7 linked regions of the Homo sapiens genome follow. The protein of the gene in region 2 purifies or fractionates together with the protein of the main gene of each other region. This does not show direct contact. Each region holds a gene or a part of one and is shown on either strand. Other genes may lie near its edges.

What was found.
Region 1: the proteins of PRG3 (region 2) and FBN2 purify together in Homo sapiens (affinity purification with mass spectrometry; 2 studies listed by BioGRID and IntAct, with this or other methods). This does not show direct contact.
Region 3: the proteins of PRG3 (region 2) and COL6A1 purify together in Homo sapiens (co-immunoprecipitation; 2 studies listed by BioGRID and IntAct, with this or other methods). This does not show direct contact.
Region 4: the proteins of PRG3 (region 2) and ZNF324 purify together in Homo sapiens (affinity purification with mass spectrometry; 2 studies listed by BioGRID and IntAct, with this or other methods). This does not show direct contact.
Region 5: the proteins of PRG3 (region 2) and RMND5B purify together in Homo sapiens (affinity purification with mass spectrometry; 2 studies listed by BioGRID and IntAct, with this or other methods). This does not show direct contact.
Region 6: the proteins of PRG3 (region 2) and TUBB3 purify together in Homo sapiens (affinity purification with mass spectrometry; 2 studies listed by BioGRID and IntAct, with this or other methods). This does not show direct contact.
Region 7: the proteins of PRG3 (region 2) and MAEA purify together in Homo sapiens (co-immunoprecipitation; 3 studies listed by BioGRID and IntAct, with this or other methods). This does not show direct contact.

Annotation. Positions count from the first base shown.
Region 1 is NC_000005.10:128,304,246-128,307,745, reverse strand, and holds part of FBN2 (fibrillin-2 precursor), read left to right. Parts: intron 1-542; coding exon 543-611; intron 612-1,797; coding exon 1,798-1,923; intron 1,924-2,109; coding exon 2,110-2,235; intron 2,236-2,663; coding exon 2,664-2,789; intron 2,790-3,500.
Region 2 is NC_000011.10:57,378,351-57,382,555, reverse strand, and holds the start of PRG3 (proteoglycan 3 precursor), read left to right. Parts: upstream 1-1,405; 5' UTR 1,406-1,442; intron 1,443-1,774; 5' UTR 1,775-1,847; coding exon 1,848-1,908; intron 1,909-2,748; coding exon 2,749-3,062; intron 3,063-3,743; coding exon 3,744-3,875; intron 3,876-4,205. UniProt on the Homo sapiens protein: Possesses similar cytotoxic and cytostimulatory activities to PRG2/MBP. In vitro, stimulates neutrophil superoxide production and IL8 release, and histamine and leukotriene C4 release from basophils.
Region 3 is NC_000021.9:45,995,270-45,998,769, reverse strand, and holds part of COL6A1 (collagen alpha-1(VI) chain precursor), read right to left. Parts: intron 1,350-3,500; coding exon 1,287-1,349; intron 1,071-1,286; coding exon 1,008-1,070; intron 650-1,007; coding exon 599-649; intron 373-598; coding exon 337-372; intron 1-336. UniProt on the Homo sapiens protein: Collagen VI acts as a cell-binding protein.
Region 4 is NC_000019.10:58,470,080-58,473,007, reverse strand, and holds part of ZNF324 (zinc finger protein 324A), read right to left. Parts: intron 2,278-2,928; coding exon 854-2,277; 3' UTR 1-853. UniProt on the Homo sapiens protein: May be involved in transcriptional regulation. May be involved in regulation of cell proliferation.
Region 5 is NC_000005.10:178,141,014-178,144,513, reverse strand, and holds part of RMND5B (E3 ubiquitin-protein transferase RMND5B), read right to left. Parts: intron 1,932-3,500; coding exon 1,786-1,931; intron 1,663-1,785; coding exon 1,522-1,662; intron 888-1,521; coding exon 787-887; intron 573-786; coding exon 406-572; intron 1-405. UniProt on the Homo sapiens protein: Core component of the CTLH E3 ubiquitin-protein ligase complex that selectively accepts ubiquitin from UBE2H and mediates ubiquitination and subsequent proteasomal degradation of the transcription factor HBP1.
Region 6 is NC_000016.10:89,929,842-89,933,341, forward strand, and holds part of TUBB3 (tubulin beta-3 chain), read left to right. Parts: intron 1-2,729; coding exon 2,730-2,838; intron 2,839-3,500. UniProt on the Homo sapiens protein: Tubulin is the major constituent of microtubules, protein filaments consisting of alpha- and beta-tubulin heterodimers. Microtubules grow by the addition of GTP-tubulin dimers to the microtubule end, where a stabilizing cap forms.
Region 7 is NC_000004.12:1,320,891-1,324,390, reverse strand, and holds part of MAEA (E3 ubiquitin-protein transferase MAEA), read right to left. Parts: intron 2,011-3,500; coding exon 1,888-2,010; intron 1-1,887.

The sequences.
Region 1 (3,500 bases), on a different chromosome or scaffold from region 2:
TATTTTATTTCATAATGCATTGTTTTTGATGACTCAAATTTCACATTCCAATAGACACAGTAAAAAAAAAAAAGACAAAATTCGCATCTCATTCATTATACATTGTTTACCTATTTCCCCTCTACAACATTATTTTTGCATGTCTATACCTTTGTGCAATCTGTAATTCCTTTTTCAATTTGTACTTCTCTTTTTTTTTAATCTTTATGTATTGGATGTTTTTTAAAGCTCTGCATATTAAAAGAAAAAGTATTTAAATATCTAAATGGACATTTTGAATCTTATAATGATTTACTTGCCTTCTGATATCAGAGCAGTAAAAAGTTAATGAGAGTAATAGAAATAACAATGATAATAATGGTAAAGAATGCCTAGATCCACTCCTAGCAGAAGCTGGCATTGCTATCAAATAAATATAATTGAAATCAAAATGTCTGGTTGTGAATAATGTAAAATATATTTGTTTGTGAAAGTAATACAAAATGTTATTTTGAAGGAATTTGAGAAATTTAAGAGTGCATTGCTTTGTTTATATTTTAAAGCTGACTTTAAAACCATATGTGGAAATATTCCTGGATTCACCTTTGACATTCACACAGGAAAAGCTGTTGGTGAGTTTTTCCAGATTATGTTTGTTTTAATACATATGTGTAGCATTCTGTAAAAATCTATTCTATGTTTTTAAAATTCAAGAGTACCACAAAATATAATAATCTGGGATCCAATCTAATATAGTTAGATAAGAGAGAAATAACAGGCTTACAGACTCTAACCAAGTATTAATAATGATACTCCATCAGCGTAGTCTGGTGATTGGGTTATGGTAGTTATGTGACTCTCTCGATATTTGTCACATCCACCAAGCTAAAGCTTCAGTTGTCCTTGTCATGCACATTGTATTACATGACTCTAAATAATCTACCTTATTTTAACCTTTAGTTGCTATTTTCTTAAGTACATTTTTTAATTTTTGGTGTATTTTTGCAGTATCCCTTTTTACTGGTCTAAATATGAATGTGCAGACTTATTTTTCATATTAATTAATTCCTTCTAAATGTACATTGTGTTGCTCACTCTAGCTTCCTTCCTCAAAGATTTGATAAGCAATATAATTTTTTTTTTTGAGATGGAGTTTTGCTCTTGTTGCCCAGGCTGGAGTGCAATGGCGCGATCTCAGCTCACTGTAACCTCTGTCTCCTAGGTTCAAGTGATTCTCCTGCCTCAGCCTCCTGAGTAGCTGGGATTACAGGCACCCACCACCACACCCGGCTAATTTTTTGTATTTTTAGTAGAGATGGAAGTTTCACCATGTTGGTCAGGCTGGTCTAGAACTCCTGACCTCAGGTGATCCACCCTCCTCAGCCTCCCAAAGTGCTGGGATTACAGGCGTGAGCCACCACACCTGGCCTAAGCAATATAATTTTAAGTCTCCATTATGAATATATGATAAAATAAAATACATACAATGATGAAAACATAGCTTTTTAAACAAATGAATAGCAGCACTTAGGGTAACCTGAAGAAGGGGTTTGATTGCCTAGAAAGTTCATTTGCTATATTGACTCTGAAATTACTTGGTATATTTTATCAGCTACTTAGATTTTTTCCATCACTGTTTCTATTTTCTGGTATATATGTTTTTATAAACCAAAAAAATTAGCTATACTAGTATATAATAGATTTTTGTGACACTGAATATTTGTACTCATCCCAGGGTACATGTAGCATTATTCAAAGTTATATGGTAAGTATATTAAACAGAACAACATATATTTGACCAAATCTGTTCCATTTCAGACATTGATGAATGTAAAGAGATTCCAGGCATTTGTGCAAATGGTGTGTGCATTAACCAGATTGGCAGTTTCCGCTGTGAATGCCCTACAGGATTCAGTTACAATGACCTGCTGTTGGTTTGTGAAGGTAATCTGAATAAAGTATGTCCTTTATCCAGTATAATTTGGTATACATATATAGCATTTAGATGGTTTCTGATTTTTACTATTTCTTCTACAATTTTTCAAGAGTTGATCATCAAAGTGTGACGTGAATGTAATGCTAATACAATACTAAAAAGGACTCTTTAAAATGGAATTGTTGCTCTTTCAGATATAGATGAGTGCAGCAATGGTGATAATCTCTGCCAGCGGAATGCAGACTGCATCAATAGTCCTGGTAGTTACCGCTGTGAATGTGCCGCGGGTTTCAAACTTTCACCCAATGGGGCCTGTGTAGGTAAGAAAGAGGCTGACTCATTCTTTGGCACTGAGCACAAGATTCCTTAGATTTCCTATCAAAAAATACTTCAAGAATAATTTGGGAAAGATTTTCTCACTTAACCTGTTCATTTATAGTGAACCTATTTCACCATATCTTTTAGATGATTTTGTTAAGAAAATAGATCTCTTCAATGGATTTCCCCAGGATTGGACCTAAAATAAAATAATATCCTTCAGATACCAATAAACATAAAAAAATTTGCATGATTAAAAAAAGAGGGTTGGATACTTTGAAGTCCTGCTCATTTTGATTCAGCTGTTGTTATGGTTCATTTTCAGCCTGCCTATAATAATTAATAGCAGATTAGAGAAACACAACTGTGAAAAATGAAGAAATCTTAATAAAAATCAGATACATGTAACATTTATTTTTTTCTGTTTTAGATCGCAATGAATGTTTAGAAATTCCTAACGTTTGCAGTCATGGCTTGTGTGTTGATCTGCAAGGAAGTTACCAGTGCATCTGCCACAATGGCTTTAAGGCTTCTCAGGACCAGACCATGTGCATGGGTAAGAAGGGCATGTGGCTCCAGGGAGTGAAGTGGGGCTGGGGTTCCAGAACAGATCACAGTTCCATCAAGTGCCATGAGTAACTACTATGTCTCTGTCAGAAACAATCTTGCAAAAAATTAACTAGGTCAAACTATTTAAGTCTTGATTCAATATAAAATTTGCAAGCAGGGACATACTGCAATATATAAAATTTGCAAGCAGGGACATACTGCGATATGTTCGTCAGTTCAGTGATTCACAGCTTTTTCTCCAGAAGATGTTCACATGGCTTGACAAGAAAAAACCCTCTGAGCCACTTGGGCTTGTGTGGAACTTACCATAGCACCCGCTGCCCTTTACTTTCATGTTTCTACTCAAGACACCATTTTGGAATGCAAGAGAGTAGTAAGAGTGACAGCATTAAACTTAATAAATTTATACACATATGCACATACTTTTTTAAAACAAATTGTTGAATAGTGGGATTTATGTACATATTTTGTGTTTTATCCCTTAAAAATAGCTTTAGGAGCAAATATAGCCAAACTCTTTAAAAATTCCCAGTAGCTAATGTAATGGGTAGCCAAGTGGTAATAGAGCTTAGTGAGTACTTGCTGAGCTGATGATTAATAGGTTTTCAAAGACAGATGGGCTGGATGCCATGAAGCTGGGACTGAGTATAACCCCTTAAGTCTGATGTCAGCAGTTGGCTCTGCCTCTGCTGAAGAG
Region 2 (4,205 bases):
TGAAGCTATGCCTTGAGGTTGGGCAAGGTGGCATATCCTAGATCAGAGATCCTCAACTGGGGCCATTTTTCTCCCCAGAGGACATTTGGAAACATGTGGAGACATTTTTGATCATCTGCGGGGGTGGGGAGAGGGGCTACTGACATCTGGTGAGTAGAGACCAGAGGGACCATTAAACTTTCTACAACGCCCAGGACAGCCCCTCCACAATAAAGAGTTATTTGACCTCACATATTAATAGCACAAAGTTGAGGAACCTTGATCTAGATCCACAGCACAGAAGAAAGGATGTAGATTTTTCACACATTAAAGATGAGAAAGCTTGTGCCTGTAATCCCTGTGACTCAGGAGGCTGTGGCAGGAGGATTACTTGAGCCCAGGAATTCAGGGTTACAGTGAACTATCATCGCAGCACTGCACTCCAGCCTGGGTGACAGAGCAAGATTTTGTCTCTTAAAAAAAAAAAAGATGAGGACAGGCACAGTGGCTCATGCCTGTAATCCCAGCATTTTGGGAGGCCGAAGTGGGTGGATCACGAGGTCAGGAGTTCAAGACCAGCCTGGCCAGCATAGTGAAACCCCATCTCTACTAAAAATACAAAAAATTAGCCAGCTACTTGGGAGGCTGAGGCAGGAGAAGCGCTTGAACCCGGGAGGTGGAGCTTGCAGTGAGCCAAAATCTTGCCATTGCACTCCAGCCTGGGCGACAGAGCAAGACTCCGTCTCAAAAAGAAAAAAAAAAAAGATGAGAAAGAGGAAGGGAGAGAAAAAAGAGAGAGAGGAAAGAAAGAGAGAAGGTTTTGGAGTCAAAAAGACTTAGAAATTCCAGTTCTTCCACTTCCCATGGAACCTTGGCAAGTTGCCTTCTCTCTTTCTCTGAATCTCACATTTTGCCTCTGTGAAGTAGGGGTGGTACCTGGTGGAGATGATGCGGAGATGAGGGTGAGGGGTGTGTTGCACACTATGCCCCTAGGATGGGTGAGAGCTTGGGAGCACTGAACCTCCCTTTCCCCTCTTGTTTCTTCCCCCCATTGTCTCCCACCAGCTCCCTGGGATCTCCACTTCACTCTCTGGGATTCCACCAGCAGGAGGCTACTCCTGGAGTTAAGGCGTGTTGTTCAGACTGGGGCATTTTAGGGGGCATAAATAATAATTATGCCTGGACAATGGACATAACATCTAGGGCCTTCTGAAGCAAACCAGGGTGTGGGGTACCCAAACAAGGCAGTAGGCCCCAGGAGGCAGGTCCCTGCAGTCCCAGCAGAGAGCAGGGCACAGGGTTGAGAAGACTGAGCAAACTTCATTATCAGCTCCTTTGTCCCCCACTCTGTCCTGGAGCAATCATTCTGGCCTCTTCCCACTTCCCCAAAAACCCAGTATAAAGGCTGCTTCTGGCCCCTGAAGCCAGAGGCACTGAGAGTGGAGGTCTCAGACTCTTGGAAGGTGAGTTCTTTTCTGGCTGCCCAGGCAGGACCAGTGTAGGCCCTGGGAAGAAGCAGCACCTCATAGGGCAAACACGTAGGAGGCCTGTCCTTAGGAACATCATAGCTAAGCAGACCTGTCCCCGCAGGGGCAGGAGTCTGGGCTAAGGGTGATACTGGAGAGCAGCAACGGAGACTGGAAGACAAATGAAATTTGGTACCTGAGTTATCCCTCCCACCATTCCTTTTCTAGACTCTCCAGCTCAGGGTCTGTTCATGGCAAGAGGAGAAAGCAATCTTGTTTGCTCTTTAATCAAACAATTAAACAAATATTCCCTCTATACTATGTGCCAGGGGCTATACTAGACACACAAAGACAGCCCCAAGAAGGACGGTGGAGTAGTGTCCTCGCTAAAAGACAGTAGATATGCAATGCCTCTTGCTCCTGCCCTTTCTCCTGCTGGGAACAGTTTCTGCTCTTCATCTGGGTAAGTCTCTCCCTTCCCTCCTCATGCGTCTTTCCCTTTTTTCCTTTTTCCTACACTCCCCTCCCCCCGCTTTTATTTGCACTCATGAGGCCAGGACCACAGCCTTCCCTCTTTAGCTGATACAGCTCATCTCCGGTAAGATATCACTTGGACTCAGAACTGTAACCTGGAACTTTCTCTTTTTTGTTTGATTTTTTTTTGTTGTTGTTGTTTTTGTTTTTTTTTTTGTTTGTTTTTTGTTTTGTTTTGAGACGGAGTCTCGCTCTGTTGCCCAGGCTGGAGTGCAGTGGCGCGATCTCGGCTCACCACAAACTCCGCCTCCCGGGTTCAAGCAATTCTTCTGCCTCAGCCTCCTGAGTAGCTGGGACTACAGGCACATGCCACCACGCCTGGCTAATCTTTGTATTTTTAGTAGAGATGGGGTTTCACCATATTTGCCAGGCTGGTCTCAAACTCCTAACCTTGTGATTCGCCCGCCCCGGCCTCCCAAAGTGCTGGGATTACAGGCGTGAGCCACCGCACCCGGCAAACTGTAACCTGAACTTTCAGAAGGAAAAACCACCCACCTGTTAAGATGAAGGGCTGGTGACTGCCCCAGGCTTCTCACACGTGCTTTCTCCCACCTTCAAAACACACACTCGTGGTGTCGGCCAGAAGTCAGGTTCTTGTCCATTTGTGGGTGTGACCCGAGAGATCTCTCCTTACCTAACACCAAGGAAATCCTCCAGTCTTGTCTTCAGGTGGAATTCCTAGGAAAGCTCGAGCGACGTTGCTGGAGCTGTCCACGGTGCTGGAACTAGGAAGCTCTTGACCTGATGGCAGGTTACCTCTTCTTCCCAGAGAATGATGCCCCCCATCTGGAGAGCCTAGAGACACAGGCAGACCTAGGCCAGGATCTGGATAGTTCAAAGGAGCAGGAGAGAGACTTGGCTCTGACGGAGGAGGTGATTCAGGCAGAGGGAGAGGAGGTCAAGGCTTCTGCCTGTCAAGACAACTTTGAGGATGAGGAAGCCATGGAGTCGGACCCAGCTGCCTTAGACAAGGACTTCCAGTGCCCCAGGGAAGAAGACATTGTTGAAGTGCAGGGAAGTCCAAGGTGCAAGATCTGCCGCTACCTATTGGTGCGGACTCCTAAAACTTTTGCAGAAGCTCAGGTAAGTAGTAGGGAGGCTACTGCGGAGGACCTGGGGGAAAAGAGAGTACATTCAGTCTTCTGTTCCCTATTCATTTAGGCTAGTGGTTCTCAAAGCCTCGCATGCATCAGAATCACCTGGAGTTGTTGTTAAAACACAGCTTTCTGGGCCTCACCTGCACGACTTCTGATTTAGGAGGGCTGAGGTGAAGCCTGAGAATTTGCATTTACAACAAATCCCCAGGTGATGATGATATTGTTGGTCTGGGGAGAACCACCGATTTAAACAAAAGGCTTTGGTGTTAGAAACGCCTGTGTTAAATTCTGGTTCTGCCTTTTATTAGCTGTGTTACCTGGGCAAGTTGCTTTGCCTTTCAAAGCTTTAGCACCTTCATTTGTAAAACGAAGATATATAGCACCAACTTCTTAGAGTTGTGGTGAGCATTAAATGAGATAATACATGAAAAGTGTTTGGAATAGTCACTGGGCTGTAATAAACTCTCAATAAGCGGTGGTTATAATTATTATGAGTATTATCATTTCCTGTAGGATTGTCCTGACAGCTAATTAAGAAGCAAAAGATAGGATTAAGGGAGGCAAGTAGGTTTATTTTTAACCTGAAAAGGGATGCCGGGCTCTTGCCTGGAGACTCAGAAACTTGAAATAAATGAGAGGGAATTCTCTACTTTGTTTCCGTCTGCAGAATGTCTGCAGCAGATGCTACGGAGGCAACCTTGTCTCTATCCATGACTTCAACTTCAACTATCGCATTCAGTGCTGCACTAGCACAGTCAACCAAGCCCAGGTCTGGATTGGAGGCAACCTCAGGGGCTGGGTAAGTCAGGGGCCAAATCTTGGGTGCAGTAAGTTCTTTCTGAATGTGTTAAAGTAGCATCTGATGGTGCCAAGCCTCAGGCCAGCAGCTAAGGTTTCCTTAATGTGGCAGGCAATGATGTGCTGGAGATGGCTTGTACTGGCTCAGGAGAACTGATGGTGCACATCTCTTACCAACTCCATGCTCAGTGACTACATGCTTGCAGCTTGACATCAGCCATGGTGGGAGTATTTACACAAAGGAAATAGGCAATTGCTACACATCAGGGCTCCTTTCTACTCCCCATCCTCCCACCCACCCCAAGAGCTGGTATAAACATTTACCAGCATA
Region 3 (3,500 bases), on a different chromosome or scaffold from region 2:
TCCTGGGCTGGAGAAACTGGGTCCCGGAGTGGCCTAGAGAGCCGTGGGGCGGCCTCTGGGGCTGGGCCTGCCCTGCGCACCGAGGGGAGATCGGTCACCGGGCAGTCAGGGCCGTGAGGAGACCCACAGGCCACACCACAGTGGGAGCCTCGCAGGGCCTGCAGGAGCCGATGCCAACTGGGGCTGTGGCCACAGACAGTGGGGCAGCCGTGGGTGCCTGTGTACCCCGTGTGTTTGCTCGGGAGCCTGTGTGCACATGTGTGTTCACACGTGCGTGTCCCTGTGACTGTGAATGTTTGTGTGCCCACAGCCAGATGGAGGAGGGGGCGTACTCACGTTTATCCCGGGAGCGCCCCTGTTGCCCGGATACCCCTGTCATGGAAAAGCAGGGCAGTGATACCGGGTTCTGATTTGAGAGGGGAGGCTGTGAGGGGCGCACAGCGGAAGGGCCTGAGCTGACAGAATCCCGGCCATGGAATTCCTGGGCCAGCCGGCGGTCCTGGGGCCAGCCCGCCCACCCAAGAGTGCCCAGTCCACTAAAGAGGGCGCCGCAGGCAGCTTGGGCATGTTCCTGTGGGCTCAGCCTCCGGACACTTACGGGGAAGCCGGGGAAGCCCTCGGTGCCATTTCCAGCGGGGCCGTCTTCTCCCTGGGGGAGCAGAGTAGCCGTCACCGTGCGAATCGGCCTGGCCTGGGATACCCACTGGCTGGCACAGGCCCGGGAGCACCTCACCCGCAGGGCCCCTCCGTCAGCCCAGAAGCCGGCTCCCTCCCCTGGGGCCACCCTGCTGGTCCCCGTGGACCCTGGGACCCGGATCTCGGGGCAGGAGGGGCCCTGCCGAGGCGGCCTCTGGCTCAGGTGCCGACTGTGGCCAGGAGCCAGTGATGCTGCGGGCACTCCCGGCCCGGTCAGGGACCCCAGGCAGCTCCACAGTGCGGGGCTGGGGCTTCCCAGGGCCTCTGGCGGCCAGGCCTCCGCCCTAGGGCCCGAGCTGTTGGACACTCACCCTTTCACCCATCAGCCCCGGGTCTCCAGGGGGTCCGGCAGGTCCTGGGGCTCCTCTGGCACCCTGAGGAGGAAGAGGAGGCGTGAGGGGAGCAGGCTTAGCATGGTGACCTTGGAGGGAAGCAGGGCCCTCCTGGGGCCGGGAGAGGTCCCATCGGGAGCCAGGACACCCAGGGCCATAGAGTCCTCAGAGGGCACGGGGCCAGCACTGGGCAGACAGTGGGTTCTGGATCCTCAGGCCCCCCTGGGTGGGCGGGTGTGGGTGGGGAGTGGGACTCACCTCGGACCCTGGGGGACCCTCATCGCCTCGGTAGCCTTTAGGTCCGATAGGGCCAGCCTCGCCCTGTAGAGAGATGGATATGGCACGTTGGACCACAGGCCTCACCCAGCCTGAGCCCTCCCTGACCCTAAGCTGAGGGTCTCAGACCAAGAGGCATCAGGGCCCCCAGGCTCTGGCCCCAGTCCCATCAGTGCAGGGGGAGAGCCAGGCCCACTCTTGGGTCTGACGAAGGGCCTGCACGAAGGGCCTGGGCACAAGTGTTGAAGCCCTTCGGTGGGCGCCCAGCTGGTGCCTCAGGCCCCCACGGAGGGGTGAAGCCTCTCCCAGATGACTTTGGTGGGCGCCCGGCTGGTGCCTCAGGCCCCCACGGAAGGGTGAAGCCTGTCCCAGATGACTTCGGTGAGTGCCCGGCTGGTGCCTCAGGTCCCCACGGAGGGGTGAGGCTACAGGTCCCCAGGCCGCAGACCACCTGCCCCTTCTCCTATCAGAGTGGCCCCAGACTGCCCTCCCTCATGGTCCCCTTTGGGCCTGGCCTGGTCCCCTTAGCCCACCCCCAACCGCAGGACCCTCTGTGGGCTGAGCCTGGACACCACCCTGCCCCCACCTGCACCTGAGGCTGCCTGCTGGACTTCCTTGGGTCCCCCACATCTCATGAGGACCCTGTGGGGGTCTATTTCCAGAGCTGGCCCCAGCTCCCACCTTTGAGGGCCTGCTCCGTGGACAACTCCAGCGGCGAGTCCCTGCCCTTCGGAGTCTAGCCCAGGCACCCCAAGCACTTCCCAGCGCGCCCAGCTGAGCCAAGAAGGGAGCCGTGTACACATCGCCCGGCCCACCTGGCCCACCTGGCCCACCTGGCCCCAGCCATGAGCCTGGTCGGACGCCTGTCCCTGGCCTGTGCCTGCTCAGACGCCTGTCCCTGGCCTGTGGTTAGGCTGATGCTTCCCGATGAGGCCTGTCCGGTGGTTCAAATGTTTACAACTTCCCCACTACCAGACTTGGCCCATTCACCATCCTGACCCCGTGGCCTCCACCAGGCAGACAGGAGGCATCTAGTGTATTGCTCTCTCTACCCCGACTGTGCAAGCACCCAGGCCTGGCTGTGAAGCTCCTGCACCCTTCGTGGTCAACGCCCCAGCAGTCAGGACTGCACACTTGACTGGGGACTTTGCACACGGGCCTCAAGGAGGTCCAGAAGCTCACCAAACTTGGGGTTCAACAGGGGTTAGTCTGGTACCCTGAGATCCTGCCTTGGGAACACGAAAAGGGGGCCAGGAGGAAGGATGGAAAGGAGGTCTCTGTGCCCTGGGCCAGGTAAGTGGGAGGCAGAAGGCCTGGACCTCACCACACACAGTCAGACTGTGCCACAGACAGCAGGAGGCCAGACTGGGCAGTTTCTGCAGAGCACCTCACTGGGGGCACCTCCTGGGACCAGCCCTGAGGGCCCAACTGCTTCTGGCATCCACACAGGGAGAGCCCCATGCTGGGCAGGGTGGAGGGGAGGGGTAAGGCTGGCAAGGGCTGAGCAGGGAGGTTCTGGGAGCAGGGAAAGCCCGGAAGGCCAGCTGGGAGCCCAACGTCCCGATGGACAAATGTGGCTCCAAAGCCACCTATCCACACCCCCGGGCCCCGAAAGGCCCCAGGGAGGCTCCAGGTGAACAAGTGCCTGCCTCAGCCAGGCAACTGTGAGTCATGGGTCACATGGTGCCCTGGTCTCAGGCGTTGGGGGAAACCTCCTCCAGGACAGCAGCCTAGAGACTATTCCCAGACCCCCAGGCATGGGACCCACCAGCCCCTGTGCAGCCTGCCCCACAGCCCTGGAGGCCCTGCAGCCGGCCTGCTCACAGGACTGCCTCTTACCACAACCCTTTGAAAGTGGCTTTGTTTTTTTCTTATAGTGGCTATTGATTACTTTGAAAACTGAACATATAAAACAGGCAGGGTGTGGTTAGAATTCTCCGAGCAAGTCCTGGCCTCTGAACGCTCATTCCCACTGAGACTTTCAGCTACCAAGGTCTGGAGCAGCCTCCCAAGCCTGGAACGTGGCCCTGGGCCGTCCCCTCCCCACAATCTGCCACTGGCTGCATGGCCTCTTCCACGCACTGTGCCCTGCACCTGGCCCTGTCCTGGGTGACCACATGGGAGGTCAGATCATCCTCAGGGCTGGAGCCCCGGGAGCTCAAAGAGCAAAGAGGATCAGAGACTGAGGCCGTGCAC
Region 4 (2,928 bases), on a different chromosome or scaffold from region 2:
CGAGTGCCACCGGAAAGCCATCATCCTAGCTCTGTCCTTCCAATGCTGAGAGTCACATGTTCCCCCATGGGCATCCCTCTCCTGAGTCGGCTATGTGTGTGAAGCCAGGCCAGGCCGTGTGCCTCAGTTTCCTCATCTTCCAAGTCGGGATACCAGCCACAGAGCCATCTCACAGGGCTTCAGGAGAAACTTCCCAGTACTCAGGACAGGAGCTGGCAGTGAGCATGTGTTGGCTCTCATTAGGACCCCACCTGTCAGCGTCTACAAACATGATGTTCAGTGGACCCAAACCTTTTCTCTTTCCCAGAGGTGGCGGCTGACAGAGCCCAGACCCTGATCCCCAGTCCCTTGTGGTCTCTTGTCTGCTAGGCTGGCCCCTAGGAAGTCTTGGATGAACAGAGGCAGTGGGTTGAGGGGAGAATACCCTCAGCGGGCATCTCTCCAGCGGCCAGTTTGTGTACAGCTGTCATAAGTTTCTCTGGGCCACCCCCAACCCATGCCTGCATCCCTCTCACCTTAGCATCCACTGTCATATCACATGAAGCCGCACCACAGTGCAGTGCTGTGACTGTCGGCCTCCTACTGGCTCTGAATAGTCTCGGCCCCACTAGAGTTCAGCCACCACGTCCTCCCCCTGATGTTGCTGCAGTGCTACCTCTTTGGGGATGGAGGTGTGATCTGTGGGTGAACTGGCAAATCCTGTCCCCACGTGCAAATGAAATCACAGCCAAAGGGCCTCCCTTGTCCCTGACTAGCAAGCACGGGACTTTTTCTCTGCTGTGGATCTGCAGAGGACATATGCCCTTTAGCTGTGGAAGGGATTCACAGAAGGCCAGGGCTGCAACCTGTGACCTCAGACCTCCGCTGGCTGCGAGACGGCGGCTGGGCCCGAGGCGGGAGTGGGCTCGGTTTCCTTCGCTGGCGCACCTTCTGATGATGCCCCGGCAACAGACCTGGCCTGGGGGTGCAGGCTGGCCCTGGATCGCCGGACGGTCTTCTCGCCGGTATGGATCCTCTGGTGGTGGAAGAGGGCCGGGCGCTCACGGAAGGCGCGGCCACACTGCGTACACACGAAGGGCTTCTCGCCCGTGTGAATGCGCCGGTGGCTGAGCAGCACGGCGCCCTTGGCGAAGGCCTTGCCACAGTCCACGCAGCGGAAGGGCCGCTCGCCCGTGTGCAGGAGCTGGTGCTGGGTGAGGTTGGAGCTGTGGCTAAAGGCGCGGCCGCACTGTGGGCAGGCGAAGGGCTTCTCGCCTGTGTGCACGCGCTGGTGCTTAAAGAGCGAGGAGCCCTGGCTGAAGGCAGCACCGCAGAGCGCGCACACGAAGGGCTTCTCGCCTGTGTGCGTACGCTCGTGCTGGATCAGGTGCGAGTTGCGGCAGAAGCGGCGGCCACACTGTGCGCAAGCATAAGGACGCCCACCCGCGTGGATCTTGCGGTGCTGGCTGAGGTTGGAGCCGTGGCTGAAGGCCTTGCCGCACTCGGAGCAGCGGAAGGACTTCTCGGCCGTGTGGATGCGCTGGTGCCGCACCAGCGAGGAGCTATGCCGGAAGGCCTTGCCGCACACGGGGCACGCGTAGGGCGTCTCGCCGCTGTGGATGCGCTGGTGCTGCGTCAAGTGCGACGTCTGGCTGAAGGCCTTGCCGCACTGGGCGCACTCGTAGGGCCGCTCCCCGGTGTGGGTGCGTAGGTGCTTGAGGAGGTCGGAGCTCTTCACGAACACTTTGCTGCACGCCCTGCATTCGAAGGACTTCTCCCCAGCGTGAAGAGCCTCGCCCAGCTCGTCCCAGGTCGAGGGCTCCTGGCCACCGAGGAGTCTATGAGGCTCCTGCCAAACTGCACCCATTCGGTGATGTCCCCGACCGCCGGCAGCCTCCAGGTCCTGGGCGCTCCCAAAGGTTCTCCCAGGGACCTCCTGTGCACATGGTTTCTGCCGCTCAGGCGTCCTGGGCTGCCTCCCCAGCAACGCATGCTCTGTGAGTGTCTTTTCTCTAAGCCGGACGCCCTCGGGAGGCCTAAGCGGGGAGGTCAGTCGCAGGCTGACGCTGGCTTGCCCACTGCCTGAGCCTAGCAGGAGCCTCTCCCAGTAGATCACCGACACCCCCGTGGGTTTTCTCTCCCGAGATGGGGAGGCACCCCGTTGTCTCTGCAGGCTTTTTACACTGTGGCAGGCACCGGCAACAGGGAAGACGCTAGTAGTCATCCCAGGTGGGGTATCTGGGAAAGCTCGTGGCCATTCTCCAGAAACATCTCTATCCTCTGTCAAACTCCAGGAACCTAAAGGCAGAGAAACAGTGGTTGCCTGGGGCATCCTGGTTAGGAGAGGACCAGGGCAGGCTGAGTGGACAGGCAAGAAGGAACCCCGGAGCTGGCACAAAAGCTTAGGGGAAAAGTAGAGGTGAGGCTGGCCCTGCAGGAGGGGCTGGGGTTTGGAGGAACAATCTGCCCTGATAGGTATGGCACTGACTACACTGGGCACTCCCATGATCAAGGTGGCAGCCCCCCGACACCCAGGATGTGAAGCTGAGGAAAACTAGCGGCTGCTGTATGCTGCATACATCTCCACACTGGCTATTCCACCCACACTCTTTCCATTGCTTACCCCCTTCCCCCCGCCCCTGTCCCCCTTCTCAGGCACCCACTCCCCAACCTGCTCCTGCAATGACCTCCATCCAGTGCTCTAGACTATACTCCTGAATCCTGCTTACCGACTGCCTCTCCCACCACACCATGAGCCCCAGAAAAGCAGGACCAGGGTCGTCCTGATTGAGGCTGTGTCTACATTGCCTGGACTGGGCCTGACCACTGTGAGCACTCAGGAAATGTTTGCTGAACACAAAGATGAAGGGTGAAAAAAATGACCCATCAATTATGGCAGTGACTAGCCATGGAGGGTTTGAGGCCAGCCCAGCTGATAGCAGGACTCTG
Region 5 (3,500 bases), on a different chromosome or scaffold from region 2:
CGGCCTCCCAAAATATTGGGATTACAGGCGTGAGCCACCGTGCCTGGCCTTTTTTTTTTTCTTAAAGGACTTTTCCATAGGCCACACAGGTCAGGGAGGCATACGAGGCAGAACAGGTGGGACGGGCATGGCATGCTCTAAATGAGTGTGGTGTGGCGCATAGCAGGCACGAGGACCCTGGGTGGTCTGCGCTGAAGCTATAAACTAAAGGTATGGCAGATGTGAGAGAGGAGGAGTCTAGAGTTCATCCTGGACACGAGGGGTCAGAGAAGTTTCTAGTTGGGGAGAGGCATCTGTGTAACAGACAGCCCCACATGGGTGCAGGGACTGGCAGCCTGATGTAACCTACCACATCCAGACATGTGTCAGGCCAGGCAGCACAACCCCAGCTGCCTGGGCACTCACCCCGCTGGTGCAGCCGAGCAAAGGGCTGGAAGTGCCGAGCATAGCTGAGGGCCTCCAGCTGCTTCGCGGGGCCTCCTGCCAAGAGGCGGATGAAGTGCAGTCGGTGCAGCTTGAACTCCAGGGAGCTGTTGAGTTCCAGCAGGCGCTGCCTGTGGGAGACGGCCCATCTGGGAAGAAAGGGGCCAGTTTAGTGTAGAGCTGGTGGGGGCTAGGACCTGAGAGCCAGCACCTGAGAGGAGGGCCCCAAAAGCCTGTGTGAGGCTCTTGAGACAGGGCTGCAGGCAAGTCAAGTACATCTGGGTGAAATGAAGACCACAGTCAAGCCCTGTGCCCTGAGAGGTCGAAGCAGAATGCTGCTGGCCCACCCAAGGGCCTCCTTACTCCAACGCAGGACCCAGGTCTTGTTCGTGCAGGGCTTCCAGGATTCGATTCAACTCTAGGAAAGGCTGCTTGAAATCCAAGTCCACATTCAGCGTTGATTCCTACAAGGAGAGAGAGAAGAGATCCCACCACTGGAAGATGGTGTTTCCAAAGTTCTCTGCTATGCACATAATAAAAGCTCACCCGCCAAAGACAGGCCAGAGAGCTGGGCTTTGCTTGAGGAGCTTGGTCTCCTGCCAGCCACTTGGGCCTCTCTTGTTCCCATCTCAGTCCTGGGGAGGCTGAGTATGACATGCTGACCTCGAGTGCAGACTGCAGACCCCACCCCACAACCGTAGCAGTGGAGACAGTCCCCAGGCTACGCACTGAGTTGCATGGCGAGAAAATTACTCCTCTTCAATCCTCCTAGTACAGTAGGGAAAATCTTTTACTTTTACCACCAGTGTGTCTTTAACACCTAACAAGTACTACTTTGTCATTTCACTCAGCTCCCTTTTCAATAAAGGGATATGAGGCCTCAGCTCAGAGCCCTGGCTGGCAACCAACTCTAACTAAAAATGAGTAACTTCTCTTTTCATCATATATGTTTTTAAAGCTACCTTCTGCTTCTGGCAGAGGTGCTGATTTCCTTTAGGAAATAAATGGATTTGAGAATGGTAGGGACTTCATACAGTGAAAACTAGCAGGTGAAAGGCAGAGCAGGCAGGTTGTTGCGCCCGCCCAGCCCGACTGTACCTGGCACAGCTCCTCGGCCACGCTGAGCATGCCCTGCTGATACAGGTGTTCCACGATGGCCATCTGCAGGATCTGCTGCTGCTGTTCCCGCGCGTCCCACACCGCATCTGACACAACACCACAGATCTCAGAGTCGAAGTTCTGACGAAGGAGGAGAGACAGGGCCTGGTGATGCGGGCACTCTTGCTGGCTCTCCTTCGAGTCCTTGTACATCCCAGCTTCAGGGTGCTCCCACCCCACGCCTGGAGCCGGCCACGTGCTCACCCTGTCAATGGCTTTGCCCACTCGGGATACACTGCTGTGAATGTCCTTATGGTCCGAAGCCAGTTTCTGCACCGTATCTTTGATCTTCCGGCAGCACTGTGACATCACCAGAGAGAGGGTGGCTGAGAGAGGGGTCCCCTGGAGGGCTGCAGAGAAAGTGGAATAAGGACACAGAGGAGGCAGACTGGGGCACCTGCCTTGGCAGCAGACCTTAGCTCTATTCTAAATGCCAGCCCCGTAGCCCAGGAGGCAGCCCTGAATGCCAGGGTGAAAGAACTAGCTTCTCTTCCAGGTCCTGCCACTTTTTAACTGTCTGACTTGGAACTGCTCAAATGGGAAAAGCCAGTTCACCTCTGGGAGCCTTCATTTCCTCATCTGTGAAATTACTGGTTGCTGTGAAATGAAGATGATCTGGCACTTACTATGGGTCAAGTGTTTATTTCAACTCATGGACTACAGCATGCATAGGATTCTGTTTAACTGCCAGGTTAGACCTAGAGTTACCACCTGATCCAGCAGTTCCACTCCGAAGGATATACCAGAAGAAATAAAAACATATGTCCACACAAAAACTTGTAAGTGAATATTTATAGCAGCAATATTTATAATAGCCAGAAGGTGGAAACAACCCAAATGTCCATCAGCTAGTGGAAAAACATGGCACATCCCTACAGTGGACTATTATTCAGCCATAGAAAGGAATGAAGTGCTGATACAGGCTACAGCATAGATGAGCCTTGAAAACATTCTATTAATCAAAGAAGCCGGACACAAAAGGCTACATGTGGTATGATTCCTTGTATATGAACTGTCCAAAATAGGCAAATCTATAGAGACAAAAAAGAGATTAGTGGTTGCCAGAGGCTAGGGAGAGGGAGGAAATGGAGAGACAGTCAATGGGTTAGGTTTCTTTTGGGGGTGATGAAAATGTTCTGAAATTAGATAGTGGTGAAGATTGTACAACTCTGTAAATATGCTGAAAACCGCTGAGTTGGACTTTATTTTTTAAATTTTCATCTATGTATGTATGTATTTATTTATTTTGAGACCGAGTTATGAGACTGGCTAATACCTGTATTTTTGGTAGACAGGGTTACCATATTACCCAGACTGGTCTCAAACTCCCGGACTCAAGCAATCTACCCGCCTCAAGTTCCCAAAGTGCTGGGATTACAGACATAAGCCACCATGCCCATCCAGAGTTGTACTTTATTTATTTATTTTGATACAGAGTCTTGCTCTGTCACCCAGGCTGGAGTGCAGTGACTTAATCTTGGCTCACTGCAACCTCTGCCTCCTGGGTTCAAGCGATTCTCCTGCCTCAGCCTCTTGAGTAGCTGGGATTACAGGTACATGACACCACGCCCAGCTAATTTTTGTATTTTTTAGTACAGACAGGGTTTCACCATGTTGGCCAGGCTGGTCTCGAACTCCTGACCTTAGGTGATCCACCTGCCTCAGCCTCCCAAAGTGCTGGGATTACAGGCATGAGCCACTGCACCTGGACAGAGTACTTTAAAAGAGTGAGTTTAATGGTAAGTGAATTATAGCTCAATTTTTAAAAAAGACATAGGAACCAGGGACTCCCTCTGGTCAGACCTAAGACAATTTGAACATTAAATAACTGCAATGGATTATAACCTATTGAATAAAATAAGAATATGAGTGTGAAGTGATAATAATGAAAGGAGAAGGGAAAGCTTCTTTTCAGTTGA
Region 6 (3,500 bases), on a different chromosome or scaffold from region 2:
AGGTGCTCGCCACCACGCCTGGCTAATTTTTGTATTTTTAGTAGAGACAGGGTTTTGCCATGTTGGCCAGGCTGGTCTTGAACTCCTGACCTCAGATGATCCACTGCCTCAGCCTCCCAAAGTACTGGGATTACAGGCGTGAGCCACCGTGCCTGGCACAAGCAGTTTTCTCCCCTTCCTTCCTTCCTTCCTTCCTTCCTTCCTTCCTTCCTTCCTTCCTCTCTCTCTCTCTTTCCTTTCTTTCTTCCTTCATTCCTTCCTTCCTTCCTTCCTTCCTTTCTTTCTGACAGTCTCGCACTATTGCCCAGGCTGGAGTGCAGTGGCGCGATCTCGACTCACCACAACCTCTGCCTCCTGGGTTCAAGCAATTCTCCTGCCTCAGCCTCTCGAGTAGCTGGGAGTACAGGTGCGCGCCACCATGCCTGGCTAATTTTTGTATTTTTGGGAGAGATGGAGTTTCACTATGTTGGCCAGGCTGGTCTCGAACTCCTGACCTCGTGACCCACCCGCCTCTGCCTCCCAAAGTGCAGGGATTATGGGGGTGAGCCACCGTGCCCAGCTATGAGTGGTTTTGTTTCTATTTATTTATTATTATTCTATGAGACAGAGTCTCACTCTGTCGCCCACGCTGGAGTACAGTGGTGCAATCTTGGCTTACTGCAACCTCCGTCTCCTGGGTTCAAGCAATTCTTCTGCCTCAGCTTCCGGAGTAGCTGGAACGTGTGAGCCACCACCCCTGGCTAATTTTTGTATTTTTAGTAGAGACAGGCTGGTCTCGAACTCCTGACTTCCGGTGATCTGCCCACCTCAGCCTCCCAAATTGTTGGTATTACAGGCGTGAGCCACCGCACCTGGCCTCTATTTATTTATTTATTTTGAGATGGGGTCTTGATATGAATTCCTAGACTCATGCTTCTCATGCTTGCTACCACCCAGTCCTGCCTCCTGCACAGCAGTTTCCACTAAAGTCACCCCTTTACGAGAGGCATCTTTTTTTTTTTTTTGAGATGGTGTCTCACTCTGTCGCCCAGGCTGGAGTGCAATGGCATGATCTCAGCTCACTGCAAGCTCCACCTCCTGGGTTCAAGTGATTCTCCTGCTTCAGCCTCCCGAGTAGCTGGGACTACAGGCACCCGCCACCATTCCCGGCTAATTTTTTGTATCTTTAGTAGAGACGGGGTTTCACCATGTTAGCCAGGATGGTCTCGATCTCCTGACTTCGTGATCCACCCGCCTCGGCCTCCCAAAGTGTTGGGATTACAGGCATGAGCCACTGTACCTGGCCTACTAGAGGCATCTTAAAACACATCTCCTGTGTCTCCATTCCAAAGCGCATCTTTGTCTACACTCCTGGGGTCCTCCCACGTCAGCCTCCCAAAGTGCTGGGATTACAGTCATGAGCCACTGTGCCCGGCCCCACCAAATTGTTTTCTAACCTGCTTTTTTCTTGAGGAATCTTCTGCAGCACATGACTCACATGTAGAGCCCCTTGTTTCTTGAGGCCTTCATACCCGTCAGCTCATCTAAAAGTCACTCCTGAGGAGTAAGGGCAAGGGGCATTGGGAGAGGTCAGGCAGCCCTGGGAAGCCTCCCAGCGTGTGTCCCAGGAGGCCTGCTGCCTGCAGACACTGCTCCCAGACGCAGCGGCCTCGGCCATCAGAGCGTGTCCCACGATGAGGTGGCAACTTCCCTGAAGGGCTTGCTCTCACCCAGGGGTGTGGTTCTCCGTGTGCACACAGATAGATAGTTCTACGTTTGCCATATACCATTTATATGCCTCACACAGATTAACCCACTTTCATTTCAAAAAGACCTCCTGTCATCGTGCCCATTGTACAGATGAGGACACTGAGACACGGAATCCTAGTGACCTGTGCAAGGTCACACAGCTGGGAAGGGTGAGGGAAGCGTCTGTGAACCCAGCAGGCCCAGCCCCTGAGTCTAGGCTCCGCTCGGCAGCTGTCATGGGAGCAGAGTCCGAGAAGCACTGCAGGCACCTGCTCTAGGGGGAGAGAGGTGGAGGTGGCAGGTAGAGAGAGGACGACCCCTGGGAGCTGAGACGATGCCAGCCTCACACGGACAGGCTGGGTGACCTCAGGCAAGTCGCTTCCCATTTGGGACCCCAAGGACCCTTCTGCAGACCCAGCTGGGGGTCCCCGATGAGACTGGCTCTCAGAGTCCCTGTGAGTCCCGTCAGCTGAGGCCAGTAATGTCCTGGCACCATCACTGGACATGGTTTGCTCTCCCATGGAGGGGCAGGTGTAGCAGCCAAAAGCGATCCTGAGCTCTGGGCCTCTGAACCCTGCTCTGCCAGCTACTGTGGGTGTCTCTACCCGCTCTGTGTCTCAGTTCCCTTTCCTGAAAAGAGGGGATAGTAAAAACTAACCCTCAAGGTGTTTATTACCAATGCCCTTCATGGAGGAATCCGCTGCTCCAGGCCCTTGCCAGCAGCTGCACAGCTGGGCCTGGGGACCTGGGTGTGGGTCTGTTGAACCTTGGCCCACCCTGGGGCTGTGGTCGGCCTGGACGTGTAGGTGTGGAGGTGCATATTTATTATGGCAATTTTCTGACAGGTAACAGAGTGTGGGGCTCTCTTCTGAATGGGGCTCGTGGAGGCCGTGGGTCAAAAGCCCTAATTTTGTAGTGAGGGCTAAAAGGCTTCACAAGGGAAAGGGCCTGGCTGGGGCTATGGGCCGGTGCCGACCCCCCCTCTCCCACTTTGTTTGCAGTTCTGGGAAGTCATCAGTGATGAGCATGGCATCGACCCCAGCGGCAACTACGTGGGCGACTCGGACTTGCAGCTGGAGCGGATCAGCGTCTACTACAACGAGGCCTCTTGTGAGTGCCTGCCCCAGCCTCCCTATCCCAGCCCTGGACTGACCAGGTCTCAGCGTCTGACTGACCAGGTCTCAGCACCTGGACTCACCAGCTCTCAGCATCTCTGTCCTCCCATGGGTTAGGTTGGCTGAGATGCCAGCAGGCGTAACTGGATGTCAGGCATCCAGACGCACAGAACAGACAATAAATCACAGTCACAAAAGTGAGAGCCAAACATATTAGTGCCATGAGGGCCTGTGCGTGTCCAGGGGCACAGACAGGGATGGGGCAGGCCAGAGACTTTGGAGGCCATAAGAGGGCCTAGAGAAGGGGTCACCTGGAGGGCTTAGTCAGGGGCTCTTTAGCAACTGGTGTGAAGTGATTTCCATATCAAAGTGGTGATACACCCACCTGCCCACATGGACATGTGATTTAAAATTTTATTTAATTTAATAGAGACAGTCTCGATATGTTGCCCAGGCTGGTCTCGAACTCCTGGACTCAAGCGATCCACCTGCCTTGGCCTCCCAAAGTGTTGGGAGTGCAGACACGAGCCCCTGCATCTGGTGGACGTCTGACTGAATCCTGCCTGTCCTGCTCCGTCCTGTCCTGCTCCGTCCTTAAACACAGTGAGGCTTAAGGGTGAAGAAAGTTGCTGAAGCTTGCCTTTGGTCCAGGACTCT
Region 7 (3,500 bases), on a different chromosome or scaffold from region 2:
TCCAACCTCAACTTCATCCAACACCAGACACACTCGTCCACCAGGCATCCAATCTCAACTTCATCCAAACCAATCTCAACTTCATCCAACACCAGACACACTCATCCACCAGGCATCCAATCTCAACTCATCCAACACCAGACACGCTCATCCACCAGGCATCCAATCTCAACTCATCCAACGCCAGGCACACTCATTGACCAGGCATCCAATCTCAACTTCATCCAACACCAGACATACTCATCCACCAGGCATCCAATCTCAACTTCATCCAATACCAGGCACACTCATCCACCAGGCATCCAATCTCAACTCCATCCAACACCAGACACACTGATCCACCAGGCATCCAATCTCAACTTCATCCAACACCAAGCACGCTCATCCAATCTCAACTCATCCAACACAAGGCATGCTCACCCAATCTCAACTTATCCAACACCAGGCACGCTCATCCACCAGGCATCCAATCTCAACTTCATCCAACACCAGGCACACTCGTCCCCCAGGCATGCATTCAGGGCCCCGAGTCCTGGCCCTGCCTGTCCCCACAGCAGCTTCAGACAGGTCGTGTGCTCGTGGCAAGCCTCCAACACCCTCCAGCAACACTGTCCGGCAGGTAATTAGGGCTTGCAGGAATATCCTGGCAGCACCAAGAACCTATCTTCCCTCTGACATCCACAGGAAACAGCCCTGGCAGAGTTCCCACTGTGAGGTGTGTGCCGGCTCTCTGGGAGGGAGTGTGGGGCTGGCACTGTGTAGTGGGGCCGCAGGTTACATACCAATTCTGGCTTTCCTTTTAGGGTTTCCATACCAAGGTCCAAACTCTCTTTAGGGGAGCTACTAGCCGCTCTACTTTTTCGTCCCGTCTTTGCTTCGTGCTTGTTTTGGCGGCCCTGAGTGGCAGTGTGTCACTCCTGGCTGGTAACTGCGTGCACCCTGCCAAACTCAGCCAGGGTGAGGTTAAAGCAGCGCTCAGTTTAGAAGACAGAAAAGTTTTGCTAATGGAGGCAGAAGTGTTAACATAAGTTAAAACATTTCTGCAAGCCCCTAGGGTGACAATGCCTTTTAATAAGCAGGTTTAAATTTTGTCCTTTAGGAGTCCATTTCTTAAGCTTCTTTTGGTCTCTACAAAAGTCGGTACTCGGCCGGGCACGGTGGCTCACGCCTGTAATCCCAGCACTTTGGGAGGTTGAGGCAGGTGGATCACAAGGTCAGGAGATCAAGACCATCCTGGCCAACGTGGTGAAATCCCATGTCTACTAAAAATACAAAAATTAGCCGGGCATGGTGGCGCATGCCTATAATCCCAGCTACTCAGGAGGCCAAGGCAAGAGAATCGCTTGAACACCGGAGGCAAGTGAGCCAAGATCGTGCCACTGCACTCCACCCTGGCGACAAAGCGAGACTCCGTCTCAAAAAAAAAAAAAAAAAAAAAAAAAAAAAAGTGGGTATTCATTAACAATATCACAGCCCAGAGCTCTGCAGCCTCGCAGATGGAGAATGACTTCCCAACCAGCTTTTCTGTGTCTATGACTGAGCACAGGGAGCCCATGGAGTACCCCCATGGAGCAGGACTGACCTGTCTCCAGGCTCTAAGCCCAGCAGCCCCAACACTCTGTGTGCACATGGTCAGCCTCCTGTAACCCACTCCTTCTGAGCCTCATGCCAGCTGTACACAAACTGTAATGCCAAATGAGGTGCACTTTTCCAGATTTTAGCCTAAAAGTGTAACACAGCCACCAAAAAAACTCCCAAACCCAACCCCCACCTTACAAACCAAAACCAAACTACTGTGAACCACCAGGCAAGGGGGTGCTGGCTCCAGGGCAGGTGGCGCAGCCTCGGCCCCGACCCACTCCCACCCCAACCTGGGAGTCCGTGCACCTTCATCTTCCGGAGCCGGGACTTGTTGTCATGGCACCAGGCCAGGCAGGTGGCCGTCTCACGCCTCTCCAGGGACTCCTCCACCTCTTTGGCCGTCAGGAACATCTCAATATTCACTAGGTCCTTAGAGGAAGGAAGCAGCACCTGATCAGAATGTGCTGGCTCAAGGCCCCCATGCCACCCTCCCACACCCCAGCCTCCATGAGGCAGGCCCAGCACCGGCCACCACTCGAGATGCATCTCCAGTCCACACTGTGGGTCTGCACTCGTGGACTACTCAGGGCCGCTCTGAGATCCTAGGAACAGAACAGCCCCCAAGGACCAAAAGGTCGGACGCTCACGTAGACAGCAGCCATAGCCGGGCAAGGGAGCCAGGCTGGCCCCACCTGTCCATGGAGAGGAGCTGCTGAGACACACATGCAGGCAGGGCCAGGCCACATGCCAGGCGGCCCTGTCTCCACTCCCCACAGCCCCCCAGCACATCTACAGGCCCTCCCTGGGCAGCCCCCTCATTTCAAAATCAACAGTAAGCAAATAATAACATGCTAAATAATACATAAACACATTATGGCTAATATCGCGGTAGTTACAACCAATGATTTATATGAAAGCAAAGAAAAAAAAAAAAAACAACAAAAAAAACAGAGTAACCCAGGCTTAGCATCAAGTCTCCGCTAGTGGCCGGGCACAGGGGGTGGGTGCTCAGTGCCTAGCAGTGGAACCCATGGTCTCTGGCAGGGGCAGGACAGCAGCTGGTACGGGACTCCACCAGGCACGGCAAGGCTTGGGGCAAGCGCTCAGGTGGTCCTCAGCAGCAATGACTCCCGACCTTCCCCAGTGGGACCAAGGACGGCACCTCCGCCTGCACATAGCCCAGGACCCAACGGCCCAGGATGAGGCCACAGTTCACCACTTGGGTCCCACAGCCCCACGTCTGGACCACCGGCCTCACAGATGCGCTGTTTTCTTTGATGATTACTCTTTTCTGAAACCCCTCATAACGTTGTTTTCTTGCACCTTTTCTTTCATGATTTCTTGTTTCTGAAACCCCTTCATAGCATTTTCTTGCATGTTTGCTTTGATGATTTCTCTTTTCTGAAACCCCTCACAGTGTTGTTTCCTTGCATCTTTTCTTTAACGGTTTCTCGTTTCTGAAACCCCTTCATAGCGTTTTCTTGCATGTTTGCTTTGATGATATCTTTTTTAAAGCCCCTTCATAGCGTTTTCTTGCACGTTTGCTTTGATGATTTCTTTTCTGAAGCCCCTTCATAGCGTTTTCTTGCACATTTGCTTTGATGATTTCTTTTCTGAAGCCCCTTCATAGCGTTTTCTTGCATGTTGATTATTCTTTTCTGAAGCCCCTTCAAAGCATTTTCTTGCATGTGTGCTTTTGTTTGTTTTTTTGAGACGGAGTCTCGCTCTGCCGCCCAGGCTGGAGTGCAGTGGCGCAATCTCCACTCACTGCAAGCTCCGCCTCCTGGGTTCACACCATTCTCCTGCCTTGGCCTCCCGGGTAGCTGGGACTACAGGCGCCTGCCACCACGCCCGGCTAAATTTTTGTATTTTTAGTAGAGACAGGGTTTCACCGTGTTAGCCAGGATGGTCTCGATCTC